Linked DNA regions of Homo sapiens: region 2 is linked to region 1. Evidence: fine-mapped expression QTL. Tissue or cell type: testis. Region 1 holds a variant in brackets; the other region holds the start of a gene. All regions are shown on one strand. Distances are between the middles of the regions. Region 1 overlaps LOC105378575 (a long non-coding RNA gene). Region 2 holds the start of CYP2E1 (cytochrome P450 family 2 subfamily E member 1).

What was found. PIP is the estimated chance that this variant, and not a neighbour inherited with it, causes the effect.
Region 2: it holds the start of CYP2E1, and the variant in region 1 is fine-mapped to the expression of CYP2E1 in testis (GTEx, PIP 0.92).

Annotation. Positions count from the first base shown.
Region 1 is chr10:133,486,090-133,497,792 of GRCh38, forward strand. LOC105378575 (a long non-coding RNA gene) reads right to left here. Exons shown (of 5, transcript XR_946512.3): 5 at 5,335-6,752. Among named protein-coding and RNA genes, the nearest start is that of CYP2E1, 35 kb to the right of the region's middle. RefSeq lists an enhancer at 4,359-4,408 and a silencer at 11,434-11,513. The variant C/G (reference allele first, on the strand shown) is at 5,342.
Region 2 is chr10:133,520,110-133,531,101 of GRCh38, forward strand. CYP2E1 (cytochrome P450 family 2 subfamily E member 1) reads left to right here and starts at 7,254. Exons shown (of 9, transcript NM_000773.4): 1 at 7,254-7,463; 2 at 8,372-8,531. The coding sequence starts at 7,287. LOC105378575 (a long non-coding RNA gene) reads right to left here and starts at 6,850. Exons shown (of 5, transcript XR_946512.3): 1 at 6,651-6,850; 2 at 1-6,034. It also overlaps the pseudogene LOC124902569. RefSeq lists a silencer at 94-293, promoters at 3,542-7,261, 5,892-7,349, 6,708-7,261, enhancers at 3,551-3,871, 5,879-6,291, 6,580-6,707 and cis regulatory regions at 5,701-5,707, 6,933-6,957.

The sequences.
Region 1 (11,703 bases):
AATGTGTTTTATGTAGCTGTTGGGTGAACTGTTCTGTAAAGGTTTATTAGACCCATTTGTTCTATGGTGCAATTTAGAGCCAATGTTTCTTTGTTGATTTTCTGTCTAGATGATCTGTCCAGTGCAGAGAGTGGGGTGCTGAAGTCCCCAACTATTATTGTAGTGGGGTCTACCTCTCCCTTTAGATCCAATGATATTTGCTCTATATATCTGGGTGCTCTAGTGTTGGGTGCATATATATTTAAAATTGTTATGTTCTCTTGATGAGCTGATCCCTTTATTATTATATAATGTCCTTCTTTGTCTCTTTTTACAGTTTTTAGCTTGAAATCTGTACTTTCTGATATAAATACAGGTACTCCTGCTTGTTTTTTTTGTTGTTTGTTTGTTTTTTGTTTTGACGGAGCCTCATTCTGTTGCCCAGGCTGGAGTGCAGAGGCACTCTCTCGGTTCACTGCAACCTCTTCCTCCCAGGTTCAACTGATTCTTCTGCCTCAGCCTCCTGAGTAGCTGGGATTACAGGTGTGTGCCACCATGCCCAGCTAATTTTTATTTTTGTATTTTCAGTAGAGATGGGGTTTCACCATATTGGCCAGGCTGGTCTGGAACTCCTAACCTCGTGATCTGCCTGCCTCGGCCTCCCAGAGTGCTGGATATATGGATGTGAGCCACCGTCTCTGGCACTTTTGGTTTTCATTTGCATGAAATATCTTTTTCCATTCCTTTCTTCACTTTCAGTCTTTGTGTGTCTTTATAGGTAAGGCAGCGCATATAGTTGGGCCTTTTTTTTTTTTTGTCCTTCAGCCAGTCTCTAGCTTTTAAATGGGCAATTTAATCTATTTACATTCAAAGTTATTACTGATAGGTGGCAACTTACTCCTGTTATTTTATTGATTGCTTTCTGGTTGCTTTGTATATTCTTTGGTCCTTGCTTCATCTGTTATTATTTATTTTTGCAGTTGGGTGGTTTTCTGTAGTGATAAGGCTTGATTCCTTTATCTTTCCCCTTTGTTATATCAGTTAGTTTTATAGTTTTGCATGTTTTCATGATGGGTTATTGTCTTTTCACTTCCAAATGTAAGGCTCCCTTGAGCATTTCCTGTAAGACTGCTTTAGTGGTGATGAATTCCCTCAATTTTTCCTTCTCAAGAAAAATTGTTTCTCCTCCATTCTTGAAGGATAGATTTGCTGGATATAATATTCTTGGTTGACAGGTTTTTAAAAATTTATTTCAGTACTTTGAATATATCATCTCATTCTCTTCTGACCTGTAAGGTTTCTGCTGAGAAATCTGCTGTTAATCAAACTGGGATTCCCTTATATCTGAATTGATGCTTTTCTCCTGCTACTTTAAAAATTCTTTATGTTTGACTTTTGACAGTTTGACTATAATGTGCCTTGGAGAGGACCTGTTTGGGTTGAATCTATTTGGGGTTCTTGGAGCTTCCTGGGCTTGGACATTCATCCCTCTCCCAAGATTTGGGATTTTTCTGCTGTTATTTCATTAAATGTGTTTTCCATTTCCCTTCTTTTCTCCTCCTGGAATGCCCAGAATATTTGTTTGCTTAATGGTGTCCCATAAATCCTGCAGGCTTTCTTTATTCCTTTAAATTATTTTTTGTCTGCCTGTATTATTTCAAAAGACCTATCTTCAAGTACAGAAGTTCTTTCTTCTCCTTTGTTTAATCTGTTGTTGAAGTGCTTGATTGTATATTTTAATTTCATTCATTGAATTCATCAGCTGAGGATTTCCATTTGGCTCTTTTTAATGATATCTACCATTTAGTTAAATTTCTTATTCAAATCATAAATTATTTTCTAATTTCATTGAATGTTGTATCTGTATTCTCTTGTAACTCACTGAGTTTCCTTAAGATTATTATTTTGAATTCTTTTTCTGGCATTTTATATATTTCCTTATGATTGAGATCTGTCATAGGAGAATTATTATTTTTCTTTGGAGGTGACATGTTTCTTTGCGTTTTCAAGGTTAATGTGTTGAGGTGTCTCTATGTTGATTTCTATACATCTGGTGGGAAAAAAAATCACCTCTTTTGCTTGTATGGAGTAAGTTTTGAAGCAAAAGACTCATTCATGTGAATGGGCCTCAGGGCATCAGTTCAGTGGGGTGCATTGCCCTGGGCTCTAGATGGATGCAGTAATGTAGTCTCTGTGTAGTCTTTTCAGCTGTAATCTACATTAGTGGTGTTTCAAGTTTCTCAGTGGCCTAGTCTGAGAGAGTCTGTGGCACTGGCGGTGCAGCTTTCCCTCTCCTTTTTAAAGAGCTTGTGTACTTAGGTCAGGCTTACCAGGCTGTTTCTCAGGTTGGGATGTGTGTGCATATGCACAATGGGCTGGTCAACTTGAGGTCTGGCTCCCTGGGGTTGGGGCCACTGGGCTGTTACTCTGGCCAGGAGCATGAGCATAGATATTTGGCCAGCTTATGGGCATGCTCACCATGGGTGGCTGACAGGGCTGTTTCTCAGGCCTGGTATGCAGGCACAGGGCTGCTTGACTGGCCTGGGGGTGTGTCTGCTGCAGGCAGCCCATGGGACTATTTCTCAGACCCAGGACACAGCTGCATGACTGCTCAGCTGGCCTGAGTGTGTGTCTGCTGGGGGTGGGCCACCAGGCTGTTTCTTGGACCTGGGATGTGGGTGTACATCTGCTCAGCTGGACTGGGGATTTGCCCACCAGGGTTGGCCAGCTGAGCTGCTTTTCAGTCCCAGGGCACACAACTGCTTGGTTATTCTGGGGGTGTTTTGCAAATGGCAGCCCCTAGAGCAGTTTCTCAGCCACTGATTGTGGACACAGGGCCATTGGACAAGTCAGGGCCTTGTCTGCAGGGAATAGGGCACCTCAAAACTGTTACTCAGACCCTGAATATAGGCACATAGCCACTCCACTGGCCTGGAAGTGTGTCAGCTACTCAGAGGCTTGAGGGCCTCTCCGACTTGGAGGAGGGCATGCAGCAGTGTGGCTGGCTCAAGGGCAGTTTTGCCCTGGGTGGGACTGCCAGACTTTTCCTCTGTCTGGAAGTGAGGGTGGTAGGAGTTGGTTTTTCTGCTCTCCAGGGTCACAGCCAATCCTGGGCCCAGGCTTCATGCTGCCAGCATTGTGGTGCTCGGCCACCAGTGTGGGCTTGGTGGAACAAAGACAGAGCTCCAGTGCTGGAAAGGTGCAGTGGATACTGGCCTCCAGAATAGGGTGCACTCCAGACATGACTCTGGTCTCAAGATGGTGCCCTGCTGCAGCAGACTGGCTTACAGGGGATAGTTGGGGGATGGGGAGTGCACATATTGTGCTCCTAATCTAGGGCAATGAAGCTGTGTGAATGCCCTGCAGCTCTCCAAACTGGGTGACGGTGGGATTCTCCTGTTGTAAGGACTTTAGGTGTTTGCAGTGGCAATCAGGGATGGTGGGGATCTTTTGTTTATCTGCAATAAGTGACTCCTGACATTAGGCAGTTCTGATCTTGATGAGGGACAAGGGGTTTCAGAGGCCAAGTGCTTCCACACTGCCCTCCTGGACTTCTAATCACCACAGGTGCATTTCCACTCCTCTTTTGCATACCAGCACTCTTCCTTCAACACTCCAGTCAACACTGAGCTGTTTATTTTTTGCTTTGGTTCCTTCTTGTCTGGGGTGGCGGGTGGGGAGGAGATGAATACCAGGCATCTCTAGTCAGCTATCTTATTCCCAAGCTTAGAGGCTCTCTAATGCTAGGTCACATAGGCAGGCCTCCTTTATGGCTCTAGGTGGTACCTTAAAAACAAGCTCCCCTTGGCTCTAGTAAATGGTTAGAGCACTGCTCTTCTCGAGTTAGAGGTGGGGAAGTCCCAAAGGGATATCCCAGTAGTGTGGGAAGGCTGGCTAGGGGTTTGTACCCAGGGGACCTGTGGGATGAAACTCCTACAGCATGGTGCTGCTGAACATCCACTGTAATTTGCATCTTCTGTGGCTGAGTTTCAGAGCAGAGTTTCCAGGGCTGGAGGTGGTAGTCCCACCTCCCCACTTTGTCTCTGCCTGTCTTCAGGGATACTTCTTGATGCTTCCCATGGGCTAAGGTAGGGACGGTTCTCCTGCCAGGGAACCCAAAATGGTGGGGAAGCTGTTTGTCTCCTCCATTTTGCTTTTCTCAGTGTAGAAACAATGAGTTGGGGAAATTTTTCAACACATGTGGTGCCAGGCAGAATGGGGGAGGGGGCATTGCAAATGTGGGTGTCTAGTTCTCTTACCAACTACTCAGAGTGTTTTCACTTCTCTGTGGGCCTGGAAGTGGTCTCATCTTTTTATTTGAGTTCTGGGATATTTCTGGTGATAATCTTTGTTTTTGGTTTTCTGTGGGAGAGAGTGAAACCAGTTTGCTTCTATTCTACATTGCCTTTTGAAACTAGAAAAAAAACCTCTCTTTTTTGAAGAGCTTGTGTGCTTAGGTCAGGCTTACCAGGAAAATCTCACTGTCTTAAGGTTAACTATGCCATGTAATGTAACATAATCACATGTATGTTAAAAGTGCTACTTGAATTAATAAGTGAGTTTATCAAGGTCATATAAAGTAAAACATACAAAAATAAATAGTGTTTTATGTACTAATAACAAGGATTGGAAATTGCAATCAAATAAACACCATTTGCAATTGCATCAAAGGCATGAAATAAGGATAAATTTAGCAAAATGTGTTTAAGACTTAAGTACTATGATCACAGCATTGTTGCTAAAACTCAAGGGAGATAAAAATAAGTGGAGATACACGCTATGATTGCAGAGTCAATATTGATAATATTTCAGTTCTTCCAAAATTGAACTAGTACCTAGAAATTGACATTTGATTTTAAATTTTATATGGTTATTCAAATGTCATATAGTATTTTACACAATTTTGAAGAACAAGAAAGAACATAATTAGGGAAATAAAATGACTTGATTTGAACATTTACTTTAAAGCTATTATTTAAAGACAGTCTGCTATTGATATAAGGATAAATATGTAAGGATAAATATTCAGAAATGAATAAACCTATACCTAAATGGTCAATTGATCTTTAACGAAGGATCAATACAGTTTAATCTAATCAGGGAAAAGATAGTCTTTTTTTTTTTTTTTAATGGAGTCTTGCTCTGTCACCTAGGCTGAAGTACAGTGGTGTGATCTCGGCTCACGGCAACCTCTGTCTCCCAGGTTCAAGCAATTCTTATGCCTCAGCCTCCAGAGTAGCTAGGATTACAGGTATGTATCACCATGCCCAGCTAATTTTTGTATTTTTAGTAGAGACAGGGTTTCACATGTTGGCCATGCTGGTCTTGAACTCCTGACCTCACGTGATCTGCCCACCTCGGC[C/G]TCCCAAAGTGCTGGGTTTACAGGCATGAGCCTCCATGCCCAGCCAAAAGATAATCTTTTCAAAAATGGTGTTGAAACAACTGGTTACTTATATATAGAAAAGAAATAACTGGTTATGTATATAGAAAAGAATGAACCATAATCCCTCCCTCAAACCATATATGAACATTAAACAGATCATATACCAAAACAGTAAAGCTAAACTAAAAGCTACTAGAAAAAATATGCAACTTTTGGGTATACAAAAATTTTGTAGGTAGTACACACACAAAAAGCACAAACCACCAAAGAAAATAATTTACAAAGTAGGCTTTATAAAAATTAGAAACCTCTGCTTTTTGAAAGACATAGATAAGAAAATGAAAAGGCAAACCACAAACCTGGAGAAAATATTCATAACATATATATTAGACAAAAGTTGTATTTCCATATTATATAAATAATTCTAAAAATTCAATAATAGGGAGACAATCAACCTAATTGTTTTTTAAAATGGTTAACTGATACAAACAGACCCTACATAAAAGAACTTATATGCATAGCCAATCAGCATGTGAAAAGATGTTCAACGTCATTAGTCATCAAGGAACTAGAAATTATAAGCAAAATGGGATACCATTAGAGACCCACTAACATTAAAGAAACTGACAATTTCAAGTGTTGGAAACAATGTAGAACAACTGCAACAACCGTAAATTTCTGGTGGAAATGTAAAATGGCAAAACTACTTTGGGGAAAAAATGGCTTTTTTTAGAAAGTTGAACGTATACTCCTAGGGATTTATATAAGAGCTTGAAAAACATATATCAACACAAAGGCCTATGTATTTATGCTTACCCCAACTTTATCCAAATTAATCTAAAGCTAAAATTAAGACAAATATCCATCAATAGATGATGGACAAAACAATTGTGATATATCTATATAATGGAATAGGATTTAGCAATCTATATAATGGAGTATAATTATATGAATGTGATACATCTATATAATGGAATAGGACTTAGCATGCATTCATCCATGCACCAACATGGATGAATCTGAAAAGTGTTTAGATTAGCAAAAGAAGATAGATACAAAATAAGTTCATATTGTATAATTCCATTTATATAAAACTGCACAATAAGAGAACTAATGTAAAGTGAGAGAATAGTGATTGCTTGGGGCTGAGATGAAGGATTTGTATCAAAAGGGCAGAGAAGAGCTTGTTAGGGTAATTGAAACGTTCTGTATCATGATGTGGAGGTGTTTACATGGGTGTATAAGCTTTTGAGAACTTATCAAATTATACACAAATATGTACATTTTATTATATGGAAATTATATCTCATTAAAGTTGATACAAAACAAGAATCCAGAACTCTATTTTGACATCTGGTGGACATCGCTCCAATCATGATTCCATGTCTCTCTGCATATACAGAAAGAAAGTTAAATTTGTATAGCTAGAGAACTGCTTAGATTAGGTTGAAAGATAAAATTTTATGAGAATATCATATATGTTTTAAAAGCAAGTTTTAGCTATATTTACTAATAAAAAGAAAGGAAACTGATGAAGCTAAAGAAGTTCAGGAAAATATTTCTCATAAAGATTAGTTTCCAAGAAACTACATTACTACATATCCTCACCCTGTGAGGGCACAAAACGCCCTGACAAACCTCATTTCAGTTTTTCCTTCTTGGAGATTAGTCTGTTATTCTTAAATCAGGGGCTTATCAGGGTCTCTGTGTTTCTTCCCAGGGAAAGAGTGGGCATCTAGAATGTGGGAGGTAATACATAATACCTCCAAATCTCCAGGGCGTATTTATTTCTTCAGACATCATGCTTACTGCCCCCCACTTTTTTTTTTTTTTAGAAAGAAAGAACAAAAAAGAGAAGGAGAGTAAATTCTTGTTTCCAAGTTAGACAAGAGAGTTATGATTAAATGCCACCTTGGGTCCACAAGTCTTCCATAAGAAAAACAATGAAAGGATTTCTGGATGATTCTATTATGACATCACAACTTGCAGCAGAGGCAGATGTAATGAGGCAATACTTGACATTGTTTTCAGGGCATTTGGTAGGTTCAATGGGAAACAAAACTCTTAAAACCCCTATCTGCTGGCTGGTGCTTAAAGTTTCTATCTCAATTGTCTTAGTCCATTTAGTGTTGCTATAAAGGAATAGCTGGGGCTGGGTAATTTGTAAAGAAAAGAGGTTTATTTGGCTCATGGTTCTGCAGGCTGTACAGGAATCATGGTGCCAGCATTTGCATCCGATGATGGCACAGGCTGTTTTCATGCATGGTGGAGGGTGAAGTGGAGCTGGCGTGCAGGGATCACATGGCAAGGCAAGAGGGGAAGTGAGTGAGTGAGTGAGCAAGACAAAGAGGGGAAGTGTATTAGTCCATTTTCATGCTGCTGATAAAGACATACCTGAGACTAGGCAATTTACAAAAGAAAGAGGTTTAACTGGACTTACAGTTCCACGTGGCTGGGGAAGGTCTCAGAATCATGGTGGAGGGCGAAAGGCACTTCTTACATGGCAGTGGCAAGAGAGAATGAGGAGGGAGCAAAAGCAGAAACCCGTGATAAACCCATCAGATCTTGTGAGACTTTTTCACTACCATGAGAATAGCACAGGAAAGACCAGCCCCTATGATTCAATTACCTCCCACTGGGTCCCTCCCACAAAACATGGGAATTCTGGGAGATATAATTCAAGTTGAGATTTGGGTGGGGGCACAGGCAAACCATATCATTCCACTCCTGGCCCCTCCCAAATCTCATGTTCTCACATTTCATAATCAATCATGCCTTCCCAACAGTCCCCCAAAGCCTTAACTCATTTCAGCATTAACTCAAAAGTCCACAGTCCAATGTCTCATCTGAGACAAGAAAACTCCCTTCTGCTTACAACCCTGTAAAATCAAAAGCAAGTTAGTTACTTCCTAGATACAATGTGGGTACAGGCATTGGGCAAAAACAGCCATTCCAAATGGGAGGAATTGGCCAAAACAAAGGGGCTACAGGCCCCATGCAAGTCCAAAATCCATCAGGGCAGTTAAATCTTAAAGTTCCAAAATTATTTCCTTTGACTCCACATCTCGCATCCAGGTCACACTGATGCAAGAAGTGGGTTCCCATGGTCTTGGGCAGCTCCGCCCCTTGGCTTTGCAGGATACAGCCTCCCTCCCGGCTGTTTTTATGGGCTGGTGTTGAGTGTCTGTGGCTTTTCCAGGCACACAGTGCAAGCTATCAGTGGATCTATCATCCTGGGGTCTGGAGGATGGTGGCCCTCTTCTCACAGCTCCAATAGGTGGTTACCCCATTAGGGATTCTGTTTGGGGGCTCTGACCCCACATTTCCCTTCTGCACTGCTGTGGCAGAGGTTCTCTATGAAGGCCTTGCGCTTGCAACAAACTTTTGCCTGGGCATCCAGGCATTTCCATACATCTTCTGAAATCTAGGCGGAGGTGCCCAAACCTCAATTCTTGACTTCTGTGTACCCACAGGCTCAACACCATGTGGAAGGTGCTAAGGCTTAGGGCTTGCACCCTCTGAAGCCATGGCTGGAGCTTTACCTTGGTCCCTTTTAGTCATGGCTAGGGGCAGCTGGGACACAGGACACCAAGTCCCTTGGCTGTACACAGCATGGGGACCCTGGGCCTAGCCCAGGAAGCCATTTTTATCTTGTACACCTCCAGGCCTGTGATGAGAAGGGCTGCTGTGAAGACCTCTGACATGCCCTGGAGAGGCATGTCTTTTCCCCATTGTCTTGTGAGTTAACATTCTGCTCCTCGTTACTTATGCAAATTTCTGCAGCTGGCTTAAATTTCTCCCCAGAAAATGGGATTTTCTTTTTCTATTGCATTGTCAGGCTGCAAATTTTCCAAACTTCTATGCTGTGCTTTCCTTATAAAATGGGATGCCTTTAACAGCACCTGAATCACCTCTTGAATGTTTGCTGCTTAGAAATTTCTTCCACCTGATACCCTAAATCATCTCTCTCTGGTTCAAAGTTCCACAGGTCTGTAGGGCAGGGGAAAAATGCTGCCAGTCCCTTTGTTAAACATAACAAGAGTCACCTTTGCTCCACTTCCCAACAAGTTCCTAATTTCCATTTGAGATCACCTCAGCCTGGACTTTATTGTCCATATTGCTATCAGCATTTTGGGCAAAGTCTCTAGGAAGTTCCAAACTTTCCCACATTTTCTTATCTTCTTCTGAGCCCTCCAAATTGTTCCAACCTCTGCCTGTTACCCAATTCCAAAGTCAATTCCACATTTTTGGGTATCTTTTCAGCAACACAACAGCCCACTCCTGGTACCAAAATCTGTATTAGTCAGGGTTCTCTAGAGGGACAGAACTAATAGGATAAATATTATATATGTATATATATATGTATATATGTAAATGGGAGTTTATTAAATATTAACTAACATGATCACGAGGTCCCCACAATAGGCTGTCTGCAAGCTGAGGACCAAGGAGAGCCAGTCCAAGTCCCAAAACTGAAGAACTTGGAGTCTGATGTTTGAGGGCAGGAAGCATCCAGCATGGGAGAAAAATGTAGGCTGGAAGGCTAAGCCAGTCTTGCCTTTTCATGTTTTTCTGCCTGCTTTATATTTGCTGGAAGCTCATTAGATGGTGTCCACCTGATTAAGGGTGGGTCTGCCTTCCCCAGCCCACTGACTCAAATCTCCTTTGGCAACACCCACACAGACTCACCTAGGGTTAATACTTTTTACAGTCCTTATTTCTGCAGCTGGTCATGTGGTCGTAGCTGGTATTGATGACTACCTTCTTCTATCACCCACTGTGTATTCCCTTTGCCTTCTGCAAGCACCTCATCAGATCAAGGTTTTTTTCCTGGTGGAGTGACTTAAACCTTCATTCCTGAAGGGTCTGGACCATTTGTAGTCCTCCCTGGATTGGGCTGTTGTAGTTTCTCATTGACCTTAATCACAGGGCATGGTAATACTAAGTGACATCCTAATGGATCTCCTGTATTCCATGCATGCTCCTCCTTACCTCTGTTATGGAGTAGTAGACTGATTTCATCTTGATAGTCTGGGTCAATCAACCTAGCCAACACTGTAACTCCCTTCTTAGCCTGTTTACTTAAAGGTAGGAGGAGCCCGAAGTGTCCAGGTGACAATCTTAACTTTCAGTTTAATGGAATTGTTGTTGTGTCTCCTGGTGGCAGTGTTACTCCCTCTGGAACTAAGATCTCTAGGCTAGCAGAACGTAATGTTGCAGGAACAGGAAGCAAAAATTTTGCTACTGGATCATTAGGGGTGATGGTGAGTGGTGCCACTTCCACTTCCACCCCTTGATTCCTGGACCCGTGAATCCTGGCTATGGGAGAAACAGTACCATATATCAGATGCTGATCCAGTGCATACACAGCCTTCTAGAGTACTTTGCCCCAGCCCTGCAAAGTATTGTCATCTAATTGACATGGTAATTGTAGGGTCCAGCCCCACAGGGTTGGTGCATTTTCTCCTTCTGTGTGGAGACGAGAGAGCGTAGAAATAAAAACACAAGACAAAGAGATAAAAGAAAAGACAGCTGGGCCCGGGGGACCACTACCACCAAGATGCGGAGACTGGTAGTGGCCCCGAATGCCAGGCTGCACTGATATTTATTGGATACAAGACAAAGGGGCAGGATAAGGAGTGTGGGCCATCTCCAATGATAGGGAAGGCCACATGGATCACATGTCCCCTGGACAGGGGGCCCTTTCCTGCCTGGCAGCCGAGGCAGAGAGAGAGAGGAGAAAGAGAAACAGCTTACACCATTATTTCTGCTTATCAGAGACTTTTAGTACTTTCACTAATTTGCTACTGCTAACTAAACGGCAGAACCAGGTGTACAAGATGGAACATGAAGGCAGACTAGGAGTGTGACCACTGAAGCACAGCATCACAGGGAGACGGTTAGGCCTCCGAATAACTGTGGGTGGGCCTGACTAATGTCAGGCCTTCCACAAGAGGTGGAGGAGTAGAGTCTTCTCTAAACTCCCCTGGGGAAAGGGAGACTCTCTTTCCCGGTCTGCTAAGTAGCGGGTGTTTTTCCTTGACACTAACGCTACTGCTAGACCACGGTCTGCTTGGCAATGGGCATCTTCCCAGATGCTGGCGTTACCGCTAGACCAAGGAGCCCTCTGGTGGCCCTGTCTGGGCATAACAGAAGGCTCACACTCTTGTCTTCTGGTCACTTCTCACTATGTCCCTTCAGCTCCTATCTCTGTATGGCCTGGTTTTTCCTAGTTTATGATTATAGAGTGAGGATTATTATAATATTGGAATAAAGAGTAATTGCTACTAATGATTAATGATATTCATATATAATCATATCTAAGATCTATCTCTGGTATA
Region 2 (10,992 bases), 34 kb after region 1:
TGTGCGAGCTTCTGGTAGACGCAGCTTGAATGAGATGTTGTTTGGGGTTGGGAGTGGGCTGCCTGGGGTTCATACGTCACCACACTTGATAATTTACAGAAGCCTTTCACGCGTTTTTTCCTGTGTCTCAAACGGGGTACCAGGAGGCTCAGGGAAACAGCGCAGGCGCCTCCCCGGTGGCTTCTCTCTGGCGCCCTCTGGTGGGCGGGGCCCGGGTGAGCGGGGTCCCCTCGGGGCCTCAGGGAGCCGCAGCCCCAGCGGAACCAGGAGGGCGCCCTCCGCCCAGCCGCGCTGCCACTTCCGGGTTGTTTGCTCCCGGAGCCATAACCGCAGCTCAGCGTGCGGGCAGAGCCGGCTGACAGGAGACAGGACACAGCACAGAGCCCCGCGCCCTCTGAGGCGGGAGGCTTCGTTCCTGCACCAGCGTGGCTTGCCCTTTGGACGCGGCGAGGTTGTGTGTTCTCTGCTTTTGTTTTACTTGGAACAGATGTTTGGCTTTTGTCAAGGTCGTTATTTCCAGTGAAGTATGGCATCGAACATCAGATAGTTGCCCACACAAATGTCTGTTTTAAGGTTCTCAACCTTTTGACAATACAAAACAAGAGGAAGTTTCCAGGGGAAAGCCCTCAAATCAGCCATTCTGAGCATGTTTTCAGCCCCATCCGTACTCTCCTCCCTTCTTATCCAGAGCCTTTTGGGTGCCCAGAAGAGTAATATTCTTCTGCCTCGTAGCTCTGTGGTCCAAGGGTTTATGGCTACTGATTATCCTCCTAGAGCACTTCTGAGATGTTTTATGCTTTCTACTTGTGAGTGTGAAGGGAGGAGAGGCAAGTTTGCTGTCAGTCTGACAACATGTTTTTGCCACGTGATCTGCCACTGAAGAGAAGTTGGCTATGGAGGGAGGTCAAGTAGCCCAGGGAGGTGGGCATTCCAAGTGTACCTCCTCGTGCAGCCCACCCTCTCCACATAAAATTGGGTCCTGATTTTATGTGGAAGATGTTGTGTGTCTAGGAGCAGGAATCCATGGAAGACAAGATATGATATAGAAGAAACAGGCGAAGGGACTGGTACAGCATATATTTGAGGGCAAATAATCACTCGATAGGTGGCTGAAAATGTGAATGCCTTAGATAAAAATTAATTTATAAAACAGAAGTATATTTGAACAAATTTAAAACTAATATTCTAAAACTAAAATTCCTGAGATTTGGGGTAGAGTGTATATTGCAAGAGAAGTAGAGAAGAACAGTATGCTAAGGTCCCTTCTTGTTTAGATCAGAAGATATTGACAAATTATTCAAGTGAATAAAAAAACTATAGGTCTATATGTGTTTTCAGATTCAAGGGTAACCACCGGTAGAATAACAACAGGAGTCCAAATCATCAAGCAAAAAGAACAAACAAAAAATGATCAATCCGAACATAGGGAAAGGAAACACACATACACACATACATATACATACATACACACATGCACACACACACATGCACACACATACACACGCATACACACACACATACATTCACATCGTAACAGCCAAATTTAGTAATCGTGATAAATATGACCGTTTAATTCTATAAAAAGGAAAAACTTTCCGTTTATGTCAAAGCTATAGAATGTTTACAGGACACCTATCAAGAACAAAAATAACATAAAGATACTTTAAATATTATGATGAGCAGAGATAGACCAGGGAAATACTACGAAAAGCAAACACATGTAGCAACAGTTATCAGGGGAGTCAAAAAGATGTTTATATAACAGTAAAAGATACAATTAGAAGATTAATTGCCAATTTTAATACATATTAACATATCTGAGTAGATTTTTAAAATAAAAGATAATGTAATAAAACACGATTCTAGTCAGAGAAATCAAGGCACCTTACCTAGAAATGACAAGACCACATAGATCTTTTCTAAAGGCGACTTTTTTTTTTTTTTGAGACGGGAGTCTCGCTCTGTCACCCAGGCTGTACTGCAGTGGTGAGATCTTGGCTCACTGCAAGCTCTGCCTCCCGGGTTCACGCCATTCTCCTGCCTCAGCCTCCCGAGTAGCTGGGACTACAGGCGCCCGCCACTTTTTTGTACTTTTAGTAGAGAGGGGGTTTCACCGTGTTAGCCAGGATAGTCTCGATCTCCTGACCTCATGATCCGCCCGCCTTGGCATCCCAAAGTGCTGGGATTACAGGCGTGAGCCACCGTGCTCGGCCATAATGGTGACTTTTAAATTAAAAATAATTGATGGGGAAGGTCTTTTAGAAAACATTGTCTAAATTCCAAAGGCCATAAAGGAAAAGTCTGAAAAGTTTAACTGTATAAAAATCTAATTTTCTACATGGGAAATCAAACAAGAGACTGGGAGGAACTTCCAAACCATCAAACATGAAAACAACTACTATTTATTTGATAGACAAAGAGTCCTTAAAATCTGAGAGGAAATATGTAAAATCCCAATATGAAAAGGGAAGGAATTGTTTCATTAAAAAAGAAATTCAAATAAATAATCAGTAGATGAAAAGATGCTCTACTTCTTTATTGACCAGAGAAATGCAAATTAAAGTAATGACATATGAATTTTCAGTTATCGGTGACTGGCAGTATCTAGTGTTGGAGCAGATGTGTAGAAATTGGCTCTCCCATCCTACTGTGGGGGGTTTTAAGTGTTTCAACCTTTTGAGGAAGCAGTTTTATATACCTATTAACATTGTAAATCCACATATCCAGTGACCTAACCGTCCCACTCCCACAAAACTGACTTACAGAGATAGGTGCATGTCTGAACAAAGATACATCTACAGGGCACCATTGTGGCACCTTTTGTAACATAAATAGTTGGGGAAACCATTTGAATTGTTCATCAACTCAAAATAGACAAATTGTGAAATACAAAATGTAGTATGTGTGTGTATGTTTATATAAATTGTTTTTGAAGTTTGGAAGAATACACAGAATACTTACAACCATAGTATGGTACACACTATTGATTAGTAATCAATCCCATTCCTAATTCCCTTAATATTTTGACACATTCACTTAAAAGGTCTTTCCACTTTCCAGCCCCTCTTGCACAGAGGAGTGGTGACATTCTAACCAAGAATTTAAAAAATCTCAGATTTTCTGGAAGTTTCTTGGAAAGCTCTCATTTTCCTGATAAATAGGATAGACAAGAGAAGCACTTCTAGAATGGCAGGATAAGAAGCTCTGAAAATCTGTTCCTCCAGAACTGCAATGTGAACACCAGCTAAAGTGTTGAAAAATGAATGGAGCCTCAGAGACCTTTGGGACATCATCAAGGGTATCTAACAGGTACAATGGGAATCACAGAAAGAGAGAAAATAAGGGGACAAAAATACTATTTGAAGAAATAATGGGTGTAAATTCCCCAAATTTGATGAAAAAGATCCATCTACATATCCAAAAGCTTAATAAATGAATATTCATTTATTGTCATTTATTCATTTATTCTCAAAATAGAATAAATGAAAGGAGAGCCATACCTGCACACACTGTAGTCAAACAATCAAAGGGAAACTGGGAGTCCTGGAAGCAGCAAGAGTGAGATGAGTCGTCAGGTAAATCAGCCCTCGATAAAATAGCAGGAACCTGTTCACCCAAAACTGAAATGAGTCGTCAGGTAAATCAGCCCTTGATAAAACAGCAGGAACCTGTTCACCCAAAACCAAAATGAGTTGTCAGGTAAATCAGACCTTGATAAAATAGCAGCGCCTGTTCACCCGAAACCGAAATGAGTCATCAGGTAAATCAGCCCTGGATAAAATAGCAGGAACCTGTTCCGCCGAAACCAAATGAGTCGTCAGGTAAATCAGCCCTTGATAAAATAACAGCACTTGTTGACCAGAAGCCATGGGACCAGCAGGCAGTGAGATGACACAGTCAGGGCACTGAAGAAAAACACTGCTAACCAAGAATTCTATATCCAGAAAACATTCTTCCAAAAAGAGAGAAGTATTACAGCTCTTTAGAATTTGTCTAGCAGGTTTTCTGGTACCCTCCCCCATTAATTTATTAATTAAAATTTAAAATATGTCAGCCTTTTGGCTAAGATCAAATGTCAAAAAGAAAGAGAAATTAAGACATTCTTGGATAAACAACACCGAGAGAATTCACAAGCCTGTCATAAGAAATACTAAAGGAAGTCTCTTGGGTCAAAGTCAAAGAACACTAGTAACTCAAATGCACATTATACACAGAATTAAAGTAAGTGCCAAAAAGTATTTTAGTAGGTACAAAATTAAAACTGCAAATAATAAAAAGAGAATTAGCAGAATCTTTCCTTCTCAATGGGGTTTAAAATATGGAAGCTGCCTTTGTAGGGTGAATTTGGGACTCGCAGTTTCCACTTCACCCACTTTTGTGTTGTTTGCATTCGTTAAAAGGAGATATTTTACTTCCCCAATTAAAATTATCTTTCTAATCTTTATAAACAATTATTTAATTCCAGTAAATCTTCTCTATATTGCTTTACTAGTGAGTTCTATTAAAATTTTGAAGCACAGAAAATTCCCCTACAGTATAAAGTATCCCCAGTCACAGAGAAGACAGGGGTTTTGCAATGATTTCTAGAATAGTGCAATTTTTATGCAAGAACCTAATATAACACAAAAATTATAGCCCGATTTTATTTGTGGGTATAGATGCAAAATTACTAAAAATACTATTAACAAGTTGAATCCTTAGGGTGTTAAAAGAGTATCACTCCATGAACGAGTTGGTTGTGATGTGGAACTATGAGGTACTTTTATGATACAATATAAAAATTTATGGTAATTTTATGGTACATTGTGAGACAGTGTTTTCTTCTAGCATCATACTAGCAGGTCTATGGAGAAAAATCACAGGATTGTCTCAATCAAAAAAAGATTTCATTAACCCAACTCTCATCCCTGATAAACACTGTTAGTTATCTAGAGAAAGAAGAAAATTGTCCCAATACAGTCACCTCTTTGCCACACCCAGCCAACAGCAGACGTGATGGAAGCCTGAAGAACACCCTGCCACGGGCACAGGCAGAGGCACAGGCACCCTGTCGTCCTGATTATTTCACCTTGTCACGGGCAGAGGCACAGGCACCCTGTCGTCCTGATTATTTCACCTTGTCACGGACAGAGGCACAGGCACCCTGTCGTCCTGATTATTTCACCTTGTCACAGGCACAGGCACCCTGTCGTCCTGATTATTTCACCTTGTCACAGGCACAGGCACTCTGTCGTCCTGATTATTTCACCTTGTCACGGGCAGAGGCACAGGCACTCTGTCATCCTGATTATTTCACCTTGTCCTAGAGTGTCCTGCCAATGGGACAGATGCAAAACAAATAAAAGCCCCGGCTTCTGAAAAGAAGCACACAGAAATGTCATTATTTTCAAACGAGGTGTTCCCGTATATAAAATTTGATGTTGGTTGGGCATCTAACAGTATTATGGCCAGAGGACTCAGACCACAGCTGCATCCCTGTGAGGCACAGACTCTCCAGGGCACGCGGGTCCCGCCTGGGATGTGCACACTCAGGTGAGCTGCACAGACAAGGTGTCCTCAGCCCAGGGGAGCCAGAGGCCTGCTCTGCCTCTCCACCCTGATGCTTCCTGTTCTCACCCCACCAAAGCCAAGGCTTCAATTTCAGTCTGTGGGGAGCTGACTCTGCTGCTCTCAAGCACTAGAAGAAGGAACCAGTAATCGAGGAAACTTGTGGACCCCAATGGGTGTCTGTCCCGGCCAGGCCTGGCTGGGCCCACACAGGACAACAGGGTTCAGGGGTCTGGACAGCTGTTTCTGCCCAGGGAATTGTCCCTGCCACCTCACACTGGCCACTGGAAAGGAAAGAGAGGAGGAGGCGGCAGGCTAACCCACCCGTGAGCCAGTCGAGTCTACATTGTCAGTTCTCACCTCGAGGGGTGCCAAAAACCAGAGGGAAGCAAAGGCCCCTGAAGCCTCTGCCAGAGGCCAACGCCCCTTCTTGGTTCAGGAGAGGTGCAGTGTTAGGTGCAGCACAACCAATGACTTGCTTATGTGGCTAATAAATTGTCAAGAGAAAAACTGGGTTAGAATGCAATATATAGTATGTAGTCTCATTTTTGTATAAATACAAGTATAGAATGGCATAACTCAAAATCCACAAGTGATTTGGCTGGATTGTAAATGACTTTTATTTTCTTCATTTCTCATCATATTTTCTATTATACATAAAGATTCATTGTTAATATAAAAGTACAAAATTGCAACCTATGAATTAAGAACTTCTATATATTGCCAGTTAGAAGACAGAATGAAAAACATTCTCTTCATTCTAACCACACACACAAAAAAGCTCCACAAAATACCTATGGACTACCTTCATAGAAGGTGGAAGAGGGTCTGTATGAAGAAAATAATTAATACATGAAAGAAGAAGCTAGTCAATGTGGAGCTCTATTGTGTCCCGGGATCAACAAAGACAAGATATCTTTAAAATCGTCTTCTAAATTTACCCTAATGTAAAACAAATCCAATAAAACTCTAATGTAATTTTTTAAGAATTTAAATTTGGAATAATTCCAAAGAACAATTTTTCTTAATTTTCTACAGCCAGAATATATACCTTTAAAAAAAATGAAAACAGAGATTAACTTTCTCAGAATTGGTTGACTCACTCTTTCCTTTTATTTTTCTTCCATGGAATTTTCCAGTTAACTTGAGAAAGTGGAATCGAATTCCGATGTTGAATTTTCCTTCTGGCCCCATTCATGTGGCAGGTGGTGATTCAGGTACTACTGGGGGCTGCTCAGACAAACCTCCTCATCAGACATCAAGAGGCTGTTGCACCAGGAGGGCCGGTACCGTGTCTAGAGGTGGTCGGCATGGGGTTGGAGTTGTATTACATAAACCCTACTCCAAACAAATGCATGGGGATGTGGCTGGAGTTCCCCGTTGTCTAACCAGTGCCAAAGGGCAGGACGGTACCTCACCCCACGTTCTTAACTATGGGTTGGCAACATGTTCCTGGATGTGTTTGCTGGCACAGTGACAGGTGCTAGCAACCAGGGTGTTGACACAGTCCAACTCCATCCTCACCAGGTCACTGGCTGGAACCCCTGGGGGCCACCATTGCGGGAATCAGCCTTTGAAACGATGGCCAACAGCAGCTAATAATAAACCAGTAATTTGGGATAGACGAGTAGCAAGAGGGCATTGGTTGGTGGGTCACCCTCCTTCTCAGAACACATTATAAAAACCTTCCGTTTCCACAGGATTGTCTCCCGGGCTGGCAGCAGGGCCCCAGCGGCACCATGTCTGCCCTCGGAGTCACCGTGGCCCTGCTGGTGTGGGCGGCCTTCCTCCTGCTGGTGTCCATGTGGAGGCAGGTGCACAGCAGCTGGAATCTGCCCCCAGGCCCTTTCCCGCTTCCCATCATCGGGAACCTCTTCCAGTTGGAATTGAAGAATATTCCCAAGTCCTTCACCCGGGTAAGAGAAATAGTGTTGATTTTAGGGAGAATAACTCAGCAATTGGATCTGGTATGTGTGTATTCAACTCATTTGCAGACAAATTGTGGTTGTTCAATACCAGCCTGTTGTGAATTACCTGAATTGATAGCATCCTGGAGCGACACTCAAAATGTGTCGCCTGTGGTGCAGCTGGAGCCCGGAGCCTGCGTGCCAGGCCCCGGAGGCCCCCGCCGGTGCCTTGTCCTGGGGCTGATGATGGGGAGGCCGGCGAGGCCGGGCTGCTGCGACGCCAGGATAACCGGGCTGGCGGCCAGATGCGCACTCGCTGGGCGTCCGCCTGTGTTTGCCAAAGCACGAGTTGAAACGTGAAGTGTTGGGCCAGCCCGTGTGGCACCAATACCTGCCGCCTACGACTGTTGTGAACACTGAATGGGCCAACAAACCTAAACGTTAAATGAACTGATAACGCCGTCAGCACGGAGCAGGCGCTGGGTGTTTGCGCTCTTGCGCGTGCGCTCTGTGGGGCGCAGGCTGACGGCGGGCGGGGGTCGCCTGCTCCAGCTCGGGCTCCCGCGCCAGAACCGGGTCCAGAACCTTGATTCCGGAAGCGGGCAACGGGGTGGTTGGTGGGCGCGCCTGAGGGAAGGGACGTGAGGAGCCGGAGTCCGCGGAGTTGCCGCGGAGTTGTCCGCGGAGTCCAGGCGGGTGGGGAGCAGAGCAGCTGGAACCCCCCGAGCGCCCTGCAGACGCAGCAGCCTCTTGAGGGGAGGGTCTCCCCCACCTCGGGCTGGACAAAGACAGCTTTTCCCCACGTCCCTCTGGGTTCTCTAGAGCAACAGCAATACCCGCCCGGCAGGGGTGTGGCTTAGAGCCCCGCACCTCCTCGCCGCGCGGCGGGCCTGACTTCTAGCCACGGGTCTCCGCAGTTGGCCCAGCGCTTCGGGCCGGTGTTCACGCTGTACGTGGGCTCGCAGCGCATGGTGGTGATGCACGGCTACAAGGCGGTGAAGGAAGCGCTGCTGGACTACAAGGACGAGTTCTCGGGCAGAGGCGACCTCCCCGCGTTCCATGCGCACAGGGACAGGGGTGAGTCCGCGTCCCTGGCACGGAGCGGGGGGTGCATAACACGCCCCGGGACAGTTACGGGCGCTAGCCACGTCGGCGATGGCCAAATAATAAACTAACAGTAATATTATAGTAACAGCATCCGAAGGATGAGATCAGGATTAGGGCGATGGCCCCCGCGCGTTGCCTGCGGAGCGAGGCGCACTGAGTCGCCCAGGAATCCGGCCTCTCGGCGACTGTGCGGGAGAGTTTATGGGGATGGGCGGGGCTGCTTCTGAGCAGGAGTCGCCGCCCCCACCCCCACCGTTCCGCCTCTGGGCCCGCAGGCTCCTCCCGGGAGCGCTTTCCCCTCCTGTTCAACCGCCGGGGTACAGGTGGCTTCGTCCACCGAGGTCCCCTCACCCACGCTGAGGCGTCGGAAGCTGCGGACACTGCTCGCTTCAGGGCTTTGCTCAGCTGCAGCTGGTGACCTCCAGAGAGGGAGTCTCTGATGTCCCGCTGGGGTGGATGTCCTGAGACCGGGAAGGGGGAAGAGACCCACTGAAATCCTATCTCCCAGCCTCACCTCTGCTGTCTCCTCCACGCTTCCTGTCTCCAGAGCCCCGAGTTCAGCATAAGCAGAAAGCGGCCTGTTCCCTCTCTAGGGAGAGGAGGGTTGCGGTCTGGAGGTCTGGCTCGTCTTTATCTGCGCATTCTCCCAGCCTCCTGGCTTCAGACCTCAGCGAGGCGGCGGCTGCCGGCCGGCTCTCCTCTTCCTGCCTGCAGACCTGGCCTGCTGCTTCTTTCTCCTTCCTCCCTCCCTGCCTGCCCTGCGGTTTCAAAGTAGATTAGAAATAACAGTGTCCCACATGGAAGCCTCTACTTCTTCCTGGGTCAACTTTGATGACGAGGCTCCAGAAAACCTTTGCAATGCTGTGTGGAATTTTTAAATCGGTGAGCTCGTGCTCTTGCCCTATTTATTTGTCCAGCGTACATTTCTGAACATTGTGAACGTCGAATGGGCCAACAAATCTAAAAATTAAATGAGCTGATAAAGAACGCCGTCAGCACAGAGCAGACGCTGGGTGTTCGCGCTCTTGAGCGTGCGCTCTGCGGGGCGCGGGCTGGTGGCGGGCGGGGGTCGCCGGCTCCAGCTCAGGTTCCCGCGCCAGGACCGCGTCCAGAACCTTGTCTCCGGAAGCGGGCAACGGGGTGGTTGTATCACAATTAGTGGCATTTGGTTTTCCTTCTTCTGCATTGTGGGTTTTACTTCTCTGGGGTTGCCAAAAACAAAATTAACCATCTCAGTCCTTGTCGTTAACGCAGGAGAAGCATTACTGGAGGAGGCTCTGGGGTTCTGTGGTTGAGGAGCTCAGTTCTGGTTCCGGGGAGCCCTTATCTGCCACCCACGGGTCCAAGGCACAGTCGGAGGCAGCAGGGAGGGGAGCGGAATTCACATCAACACAGATGGGGCTCAAGGGGACTTTGCTGCCTCTGCCTGGAGGGTCTAAAGTTTCATTTTCATATGACCCGCAGGGCGCAGACTGGCGGAAAATTAGCAGAGCCCTGGGCATGGGCTGCACCTGGCCCTTAAGGGACAATGATGGAAATATTCCTTATTAGCACAATACTGAGCACAGGCTGTGTGATAATGTGTCAAGGGAACTGCAGACATCCTTTCAGAAAAAGTTCATAAAACGGAGAAAGTTTGGTTCCCAACCTAGATTTTTAACCTGTTGAACTCTGTCTAAATGGGTCATCTCGGGATGTCCTCCACTCAACATGACCACGTCTGCCCCTCTGTCCCACCTGTCTCCTCAGTCCTTCCTCCCCACCTTTCAGGATGAAATGAAACCCTCAGTCCAGCTGCACCCCTGCCCCACCCACCTCATCTCATGTGCCCTCCCGCCCCTCTCAGGCCGGACAGCCTTGCTTCTGGAACACACGAGCACAGCTTCACCAGGCACTTTCTGAGCACCCTGCAGGCGCCTCCCAGGAGTGGTCAGTGGTCAATCAGCTAATGAAGCTGCATAGGACATGACCCTTGTTTACCGCAGAATGCCCAGAGCTGGCAGGATGTCTTATATGCAGGAAGTACCCAAAATGTATTTATTGAGGAAGTGATGATGGATAAGAGGAAGACGGAGAGCGAGGGAGAGAGGGGCTAGGGGCCCCTGCGGTGTAAAGGGGGTGTGGCTGGGAGTGTGCAGGGGAACAGGGATCATTTCAAGGTTCCTATCTGGGAGAAAATAAAAAGGTTTACAGTTAGTTGAGATAAGCGTGGGAATATGCGAACATTTTTAAAGAATAAAAAGTTTAGCTTTAAATTTGTTGATTCCAAATGTGTTCATACTCTCGGGAGGATCCATCAAGCAACTCTTGGGAGGAGAGACAGGGCAGGGCCAGGCCTTGACAGCTCAGAAGGGTGCAGTAGGGACAGTTCTTGGTTTTCCCAGCTCTGATGCTTTGCACAGTCACTTGTGTGACCTGCAAGATTTTAGTG